Linked DNA regions of Homo sapiens. The protein of the gene in region 2 interacts with the protein of the main gene of each other region in a biochemical or structural test. Each region holds a gene or a part of one and is shown on either strand. Other genes may lie near its edges. The genes, in order: MRC1 and PTPRC.

Region 1 (3,829 bases), on a different chromosome or scaffold from region 2:
TGGACTTGCCAGCTTCCACAATTGTGTGAGCCAATTCCTTAAATAACTCTCTCTCTCTCCCTCTCTCCACCCTCTTCTCTTCCCTTTCTGTGTACACACACACACACACACACACACACACACACACACATACAACTCTGAATTCATACATATACCCTAATTCATTCTCTTTGCTCCAACTCCATTTACACCATCCCAGGCCAAGCCACCATGGTTTGGCTCTAATCTTCCTCTCTTGAAAATGGAATCATCAAAAAAGATAACACCTGATCTCCCAGTTTTCTGGGAGGAGCCGGGCCTGACTTGTCACCTGATGCCAAATTGCAAAACCTACCTAATATAATAGGTGGTCTTCACTGAGCCACCTACAAGAGTGAGATCTCTTTCTGTTTTTCCCATCTCTTTTGCAGATTGCCTGCGATGTACACCACATTCTGGTTGAATGTTCACTCAATAGTAAAATTCTTTTCTTTCTCATCTACCTTTATGGAGAGGTTTTCTGGGTGGGAAGGAGACTGGGTTTCTAACTACAAGTTCTCAACAACTTAAACCCTGCAAAAGGGAACCACTGTACCCAGGAAAAATACATCCAGCCCCTATATCATTGTTTATTAGAAAGGGAACAGTGACCTGTCTGCCCTCACCACCAACCACACCACCTTTCAGCTCCTCAAACTCTCCAGGCTCACTTCCACATTAGTGACTTCATGTTTTGAGTTCCCTCTTCTTGGGATGCTCACTAAGGTCACAGCTCAAGTGTCAACTTTCCTTTTCTTTCTTTCCTTGAGACAGACCCTTGCTATTTCACCCAGGCTGGAGTACAGTGGCGCCATCTTGGCTCACTGCAACCTCAGCCTCCTGATTTCAAACCATTCTCCTGCCTCAGCTCTGGGATTACAGGTGCATGTCACCACACCCACCTAATTTTTGTATTTTTAGTAGAGGTGGGGTTTCACCATGTTGGCCAAGCTGGTCTCGAACTCCTGACCTCAAGTGATCCGCACACCTCGGCCTCCCAACGTGTTGGGATTACAGGTGTGAGCCACTGCGCCCAGCCAAGTGTCAACATCGTAGCAGGCTGATCATCCTAACTCATTTTATTCTTTTATTTACCATATAATATCCATAACCATCTTAAAATATATTTTTCTTCAATTTGTTTACTAATGTTCTGTCCATAGTCCCCTACTGGAATGTAAATTTCATGAGACGAGGTACTTGATCTTTCTGATTTAGTGCTGCAGTCTCTTTTTGGGGAGCATAAATAATCTCTCAACAAATAATTAGTTGAATGAATGAAAGAATGTTTATTAAGCGGAAGCATCTTAACTAGTAACCCAGATAAATTATTTATCTAATGATAGATTAATGATTACAGGTATGCTGAATATTCATTTTTCCCCTGAAAGCTTATTTTTACTGAAGAGCAATTTAGAAATGTGTATACTTACAAAAAGGGTACTTGGAAATGAAAAGGTTCTGTTTCAATACACACTTATCTATTCTTGTTTCCTTTATTTATCTTTTGCCATTAGGAAGCAGTGTAAGTTTGATATTGCCTTTGCCAGACAATACAAGGAAATGTAAAATTATTGCTCTATGGTGATACATTCATCGTGCATTATTCTTCTCCCCAAGTAATCAGCATGTCATTTTGCCTTTATCATCATCTCTGCAACATGTCTGACTTAAAATGTCATACTTCTTCCTCTGAAGGCGTATTCAAGACGTTGGCCAAAAGGCAGCTTGTGGCATTTTTACCAATATTAACCACACCAACATTTATAAACATTCTATTTTTGTCCATACCAATTATGTTTTTGTAACAGAAATACGGCAAAGATGAACAGATCGACACAGTCGATCTGTTTTAATTTCTCTGCAATCTCTTTTGTAGGATCTAATATGTGAGTTTCTTTTTTTAATACTTACACATCAGAAATTTATATCCAGAATTGCAGTGATTCTCCTTCCATCCTAACTTGATCTTACTAATTTCACATTAATTTTTCAACAAATACTTGACAAACAATGACCACACGCCAGATGCTATGCTAATGACAATACAAAGACAAACAAAAGACATAAGTTTCCTGCCATGTTGAGCACACTCTCTGCTGTGGTTAACTCAAAGGCAAAAAGATCAAGGATCAAAATACATTTAGTAAAGAAGCAATAAGTTTCAACCCAATATCTCAGGTTAAAAATGATTAAAGACTAAACATCCAGTAACATGCAATAAGTTTCAACCCAATATCTCAGGTTAAAAATGATTAAAGACTAAACATCCAGTAACATAGGTGTGGATTTTCTTTCTTTTTTTTTTTTTTTTTTTTGAGACAGAGTCACTCTGTCGCCCAGGCTGGAGTGCAGTGGTGTGATCTCAACACGTTGCAACCTCCGCCTCCCAGGTTCAAGCGATTCTCGTGCCTCAGCCTCCTCAGGAGCTGGGACTATAGGCATGTGCCACCACACACCCAGCTAATTTTTGTATTTTTAGTAGAGATGAGGTTTCACCATGTTGGCCAGGCTGGTCTCGAACTCCTGATCTCAAGTGATCCACCTGCCCCGGCCTCCCAAAGTGCTGGGATTACAGGCATGAGCCACCGCGCCTGGCCTGGATTTTTTTTAAGCATTTTTAAAATTATGCCGCAACATTGAACAAGTCATTAAATTCCCAAGCCTACTAGCAAAGAAAATTTGGTTATTAAAGGTGATTGTTCAGGGAGATAAGTATGATATGCTACATTTTCTTATACATTTTTAGATTTTCCTGACTATCAGCAAATAAAATGCTGACATTGGAACACAAAAGACAATAACTTCTGGAAGACAGAGAAGCCAGATAAGAGGAAAAGCAGCAAGTAGCTGTAGCAGATGCCTCCAGATTTATACTATTTCTCCTCGGCCTTCGCTGTTTAGGTGCATGCAGGCCCCACTCCCAAACGCCAGCACCACGCCTTTTGCCCTGGGGGCTTTTTCTGGCTATCAGAGCCCTCTAGGCTCAAACATGGCACAAATTAGATGGGTCAGAAAACGAATGCCCTGTAGGAGGAAGCCTTCATCAGAGGCCAAGGAGAACCGCTGACGGCTCTAAATCTCTTGTACCTTGGATGTGATGAGTCCAAGGCAACCATTCCACACCGTCGCCCAGAGCTCCTACACTCCATTGCCCACAGCGGTCACTGGGTGTCCACACACCTTCCCTTTCTGTCTCACTTCCCCGTTACCCTGTCAGTGTTTCCTGGGCTCACTTCCCAAATAAACTAACTTGCCCTCAAACCAGAGTGCAATTGTCTGAGGACAGCTTCTTGGGGAATCCAAACTAAGAAATATGTTCACCAGCCTCAGTTAAATAAATGTACCTATGTTTTCCCCAAAGACCCCAAATTCAGTGAAAAACAAATATTTACCCTGCACCTAGTACATTCAAGAAGCTATGCCAGGTGCTGGGGGCTGATGGAGGGTGTTAGTCAGTCTTAGGCTTAGAAATGTTGAACAGGAGGCCAAGGCAGGCGGATCACCTGAGGTCAGGAGTTCGAGATCAGCCTGGCCAACATGGTGGAACCGCGTCTCTACTAAAAATACAAAAATTAGCCTATGTGGTCGCACATGCCCGTAATCCCAGCTATGGGGGGCTGAGGCAGGAGAATCTCTTGAACCCACAAGGCGGAGGTTGCAGTGAGCCAAGATCGTGCCACTGCACTGTAGCCTGGGCGACAGAGTGAGACACCATCTCAAAAAAAAAAAGAAAAGAAAAAGAAATGAAATGTTGAACAAAAGAAAAAAAAACAGAGAATTACTTCATTTGTCACTTTGATCCTTCATT
Region 2 (3,829 bases):
CAACACTTTATAGATGAGGAAATTGGGTCTCAAGGGTGAAAATTGATTTAGCTAAAAATCACAAGATTCATAGAGTTAGATTTTCAAAATATTTATCACTACAGATGTCATGATGTTTCCCAGCTTGGAGTGGTTTCTGCCTCATTTTCTATTATGCTTAATATGTTTTATCAGTAAATTATTATATTTTTCATCAAGTGGATGTGTTTAAAATATAGTGGCCACACTGTATTGCCATGATATTTATTGTGATTTTGATATTGTCTCTTAGCATCATTGTTATTTGTATAGGTTTCTCTAAACTATCTCTTGAATGACCACAGACAAATTGTACTTTAATTTAAAATGCAGAGAATGTCTTCTTGTCTATCAGTGATTTCTATCAAGTTTGCTATACCAGCTGTTCATATCCTAATACGTATGAGTGTGTTACCTGAGTTACCCTCAACTTTTGCCTTCTACTCCTACATTAGCAAATCCCTATTTTGGAGGGTGGATGGTTTTCTTCCAGGTATGCAAATTTTGATTATATTCTTAAATAAATGAATGATGATCATTTATACTTCAATATAATTGCATTGTAATTACAGTTTTATAATAAATACCCTGTATAGTAGAAACTGAAGTTTCAGTTAGGTGGCTTTTTCCTTTCAGACACTTGACTCATTTTTAGAGGAAATAAATATTGAATCTTTAAATACTATAGAGTTAAGCACCATAGAATATATTTGTTTAAGCTCGGTCTCTACTAAAATCTCTAATAAAAACTGATAATTTTGCTGATTGTCTGTTAAGAAATCAATCAATTGAAGGTACTATGAATGGATATAGAAGATGCTTGTTTACTTCACTAATATTGACTTTATGTGTATTTATTCTTGTCCTAGATGAAAGAGTAGGAAAGCTTTTGTTTCTCTATTTGTTCTTGTTTTTTGTTGTGATTCCTGAACATATAATTCTCTGCTTATAGTAGTCATTCCTAGACTCTTTTAACAGACTGATATTGAAGTAGCACACTGACATACAAACAGGAATGAAGATTAAATATTTTAGACAATAATTAGATATTTTCTAATATAAATATTGGTTAGAGCCAGGTACACAAAATCCAGTGATTGCCATAATTTTTATTCCTGTATATTTGGGTATTATATAGAAATAGGCATCAAATCATATTGCTAAAGTCTTGCCATATTTTTTTTCTGGTGTATCATATCTTAAAAAGTGAGGTCTTTATGTATGCAAAAGTCATAGCACTAAGCCTTTGGTAAAAGGCCACTGCTATGGGATTGAGTATCTAGTACTTACAAAGATATTTAGACTAGACAGAAATTAATTTTAAACTGAAGATATGTTAAATTTCCATTCTAATTGTTTCCCATGTAAATAACTACATAAATCTATAAGATGTCTAGAAAAAAAAATCAAAGGTCAGCACTGATGAAAAATTTCTCTCTCTGCACCAAGGTGACATATACACACATGGTCTGAAGATGAAACCTTGCCTTTGTGAACATTGTGTATTTACCAAGAGAATGAATCAACCTCAGTACAAATCTCTGCCCCTTACCTACTCAGATTGACATTCATCACCACACTGTCTGTAAAGAAATTATTCCCAGCTCTCTACAAACTTTTGTCGTGCAAATAATGCAACACCTAGGGTGCACCATATTCCATCTGCCCTTGCAAGCAATCCCAGAGCACTAGCATCAGTGTTCAAACCAGCAATTGCCATGACTGGACCTGATCTGTTTGTGTTATCACTCCGCTACATTTGTATTTCCCTCCCATTCCTTGCTTTTTCTCCTATGGGTATGTGTATCTGAAAAATAAAATTGACCCTCCAAATTACATTACCTAGAATGTCCAAAGAGCAGATCAAAGAAAATTTAGGAAAAACATTCTCAAACTATGAACTTTTAGGAAGTCAGGAGGCTCTTTCCAGACGAGAGGTGAGATAAGGAGAGTAAGAAAGGGAGCAAAGAAAAAACAAACAAACAAACAAACAAAAACAAAAAGGCAAGACTGTAAACATCTAGATCCAAAATCAACTTAATTTAATCTGGACAAAATAGTCCTGCTGTCTTCATCCTCCCACTTCGCCTCTGGTTAATTTTTTTATCTCATATTCTCCCTCTTTTTGACTTCCCTCTTTGAAAATTTTCCTTTCCTTTGTCACTACAATATGCAGTTTTATTTTTTTAATCTATGATTTATTCAGTGTCTGGTGAAAAATTAGGTATGGGAACTATGAGTTTATGCCTTTTGTGTCTCCTATACCTGATTTCATGTAGGTTACAATGTCAAGAAATCCACTAATTCACATGTCATCATCATCATCAATCATCATCACAAAAAAGAGCAGATTGAAATGACTTGAAAAATGCCAAGAAAAGGTGATAAAAAGTGTGCAATTCAATGGAAATATTTTGTGGCAAAAGTGACATAAGAGAACATAATAGAAGAAGTAGGATTTGCCCAGAACCTTAAACACCTTGAGAAAGTATAGAGGTGGGTGTTAAAACTACCTCCTGTTTGTTTTCTTTTAATCAATCATAGAAGAAAAAGAAAGAAAAAAGAAAGAAAGAAAGAAAGAAAGAAAGAAAGAAAGAAAGAAAGAAAGAAAGAAAGAAAGAAAGGAAGAAAGAAAGAAAAGAAAAAAGATCCCTTCCCAGCTCCAGGCCTAGCCCCCAGATCATTAGTGGAACCAGTTTCTCTGGCAAAAAAGATTAGAATTTATACCAAAGGCAATGAGAAGAAATCAGTAACCCTTCACTTTTTATTTTACTTTTTAAGCTGTAGATTACATTAAAAAAAGGATGAGACTTCAGACTGATTAAAAAAACTATTACAATTTTACAGGTGAGAAATAATAAAGCCATGAATTAAGATGATGGCAATGGAGGTGTCAAAGCAAGAAGTTATTAGAGATTATTACAAAGCAAAATTTCAGGACTTGGGGAGCATGTTAATGTCTGGATTTAGGAAAGGTAGTAAGTTCCGTGTTTCTGAGGGATGAGTCTAGAGATGGAGAATCAGAGTGATCAACACATAGTAGGCAATGATACGTAACCAAATGGAGAAAAGAGAACACAGGCGAAGGTCTGAAGTTCATGGGAACGCCAAATAGACAAACATGGAGAACTGATAGATAGATAGATAGATAGATAGATAGACAGATAGATAGATTGACTAGTATATATAACCCACAAATATATAACTAGTTTATGTGTGAGTATCTACATAAAGAAATATATGTTCAAGTATATGAACAATGTAGAAACATCTATATTTCTATACTGGTTAATTGTCACTGGTGAGAGGATAGCAAATAGTCCAGAACAAAGAAAGAACTAAGTTCAAGCTAACTACTCTGCCCCTATACTTACTTACACAGAACAAAAGAGAAAAAGATAATATAGGCCCTAGCCGTAGTCTTTCCTGTAACAAAGTACATTTCAAACTTTAGCAATGATAAAGGTCACAGGCAGGTTTTTAGTAGGACATTTTTTTTCAAATTAATAAGTAATTCTAATCACATTCCCAAATCTCTAAATTATGGAGTATTTAGAACTTAATAGGACTGCTTACCAAATTCAATTAAATAATTTTCATTGAATGTCTGTGATGTGCAAGGCACAGTCCATGTTTATAACATGAGATATATATTTTTAATACAGATGGAAAAATGAAGAATTATGTCCAGGAAATGAGTCTTAACTGTTATGACTCATAACAAAACTCATCATATACCTCACATACCATAACTCATATACTCCTAACTGCCATGCTATAGTGTGGTAGATCTGCCTGGCATTACAACTTT

What was found.
Region 1: the proteins of PTPRC (region 2) and MRC1 form a complex in vitro, tested with the Homo sapiens proteins (one large-scale study listed by IntAct).

What each region holds. Positions count from the first base shown.
Region 1 is NC_000010.11:17,815,755-17,819,583, reverse strand, and holds part of MRC1 (macrophage mannose receptor 1 precursor), read right to left. Parts: intron 1-3,829. UniProt on the Homo sapiens protein: Mediates the endocytosis of glycoproteins by macrophages.
Region 2 is NC_000001.11:198,641,721-198,645,549, reverse strand, and holds part of PTPRC (receptor-type tyrosine-protein phosphatase C isoform 1 precursor), read right to left. Parts: intron 1-3,829. UniProt on the Homo sapiens protein: Protein tyrosine-protein phosphatase required for T-cell activation through the antigen receptor. Acts as a positive regulator of T-cell coactivation upon binding to DPP4.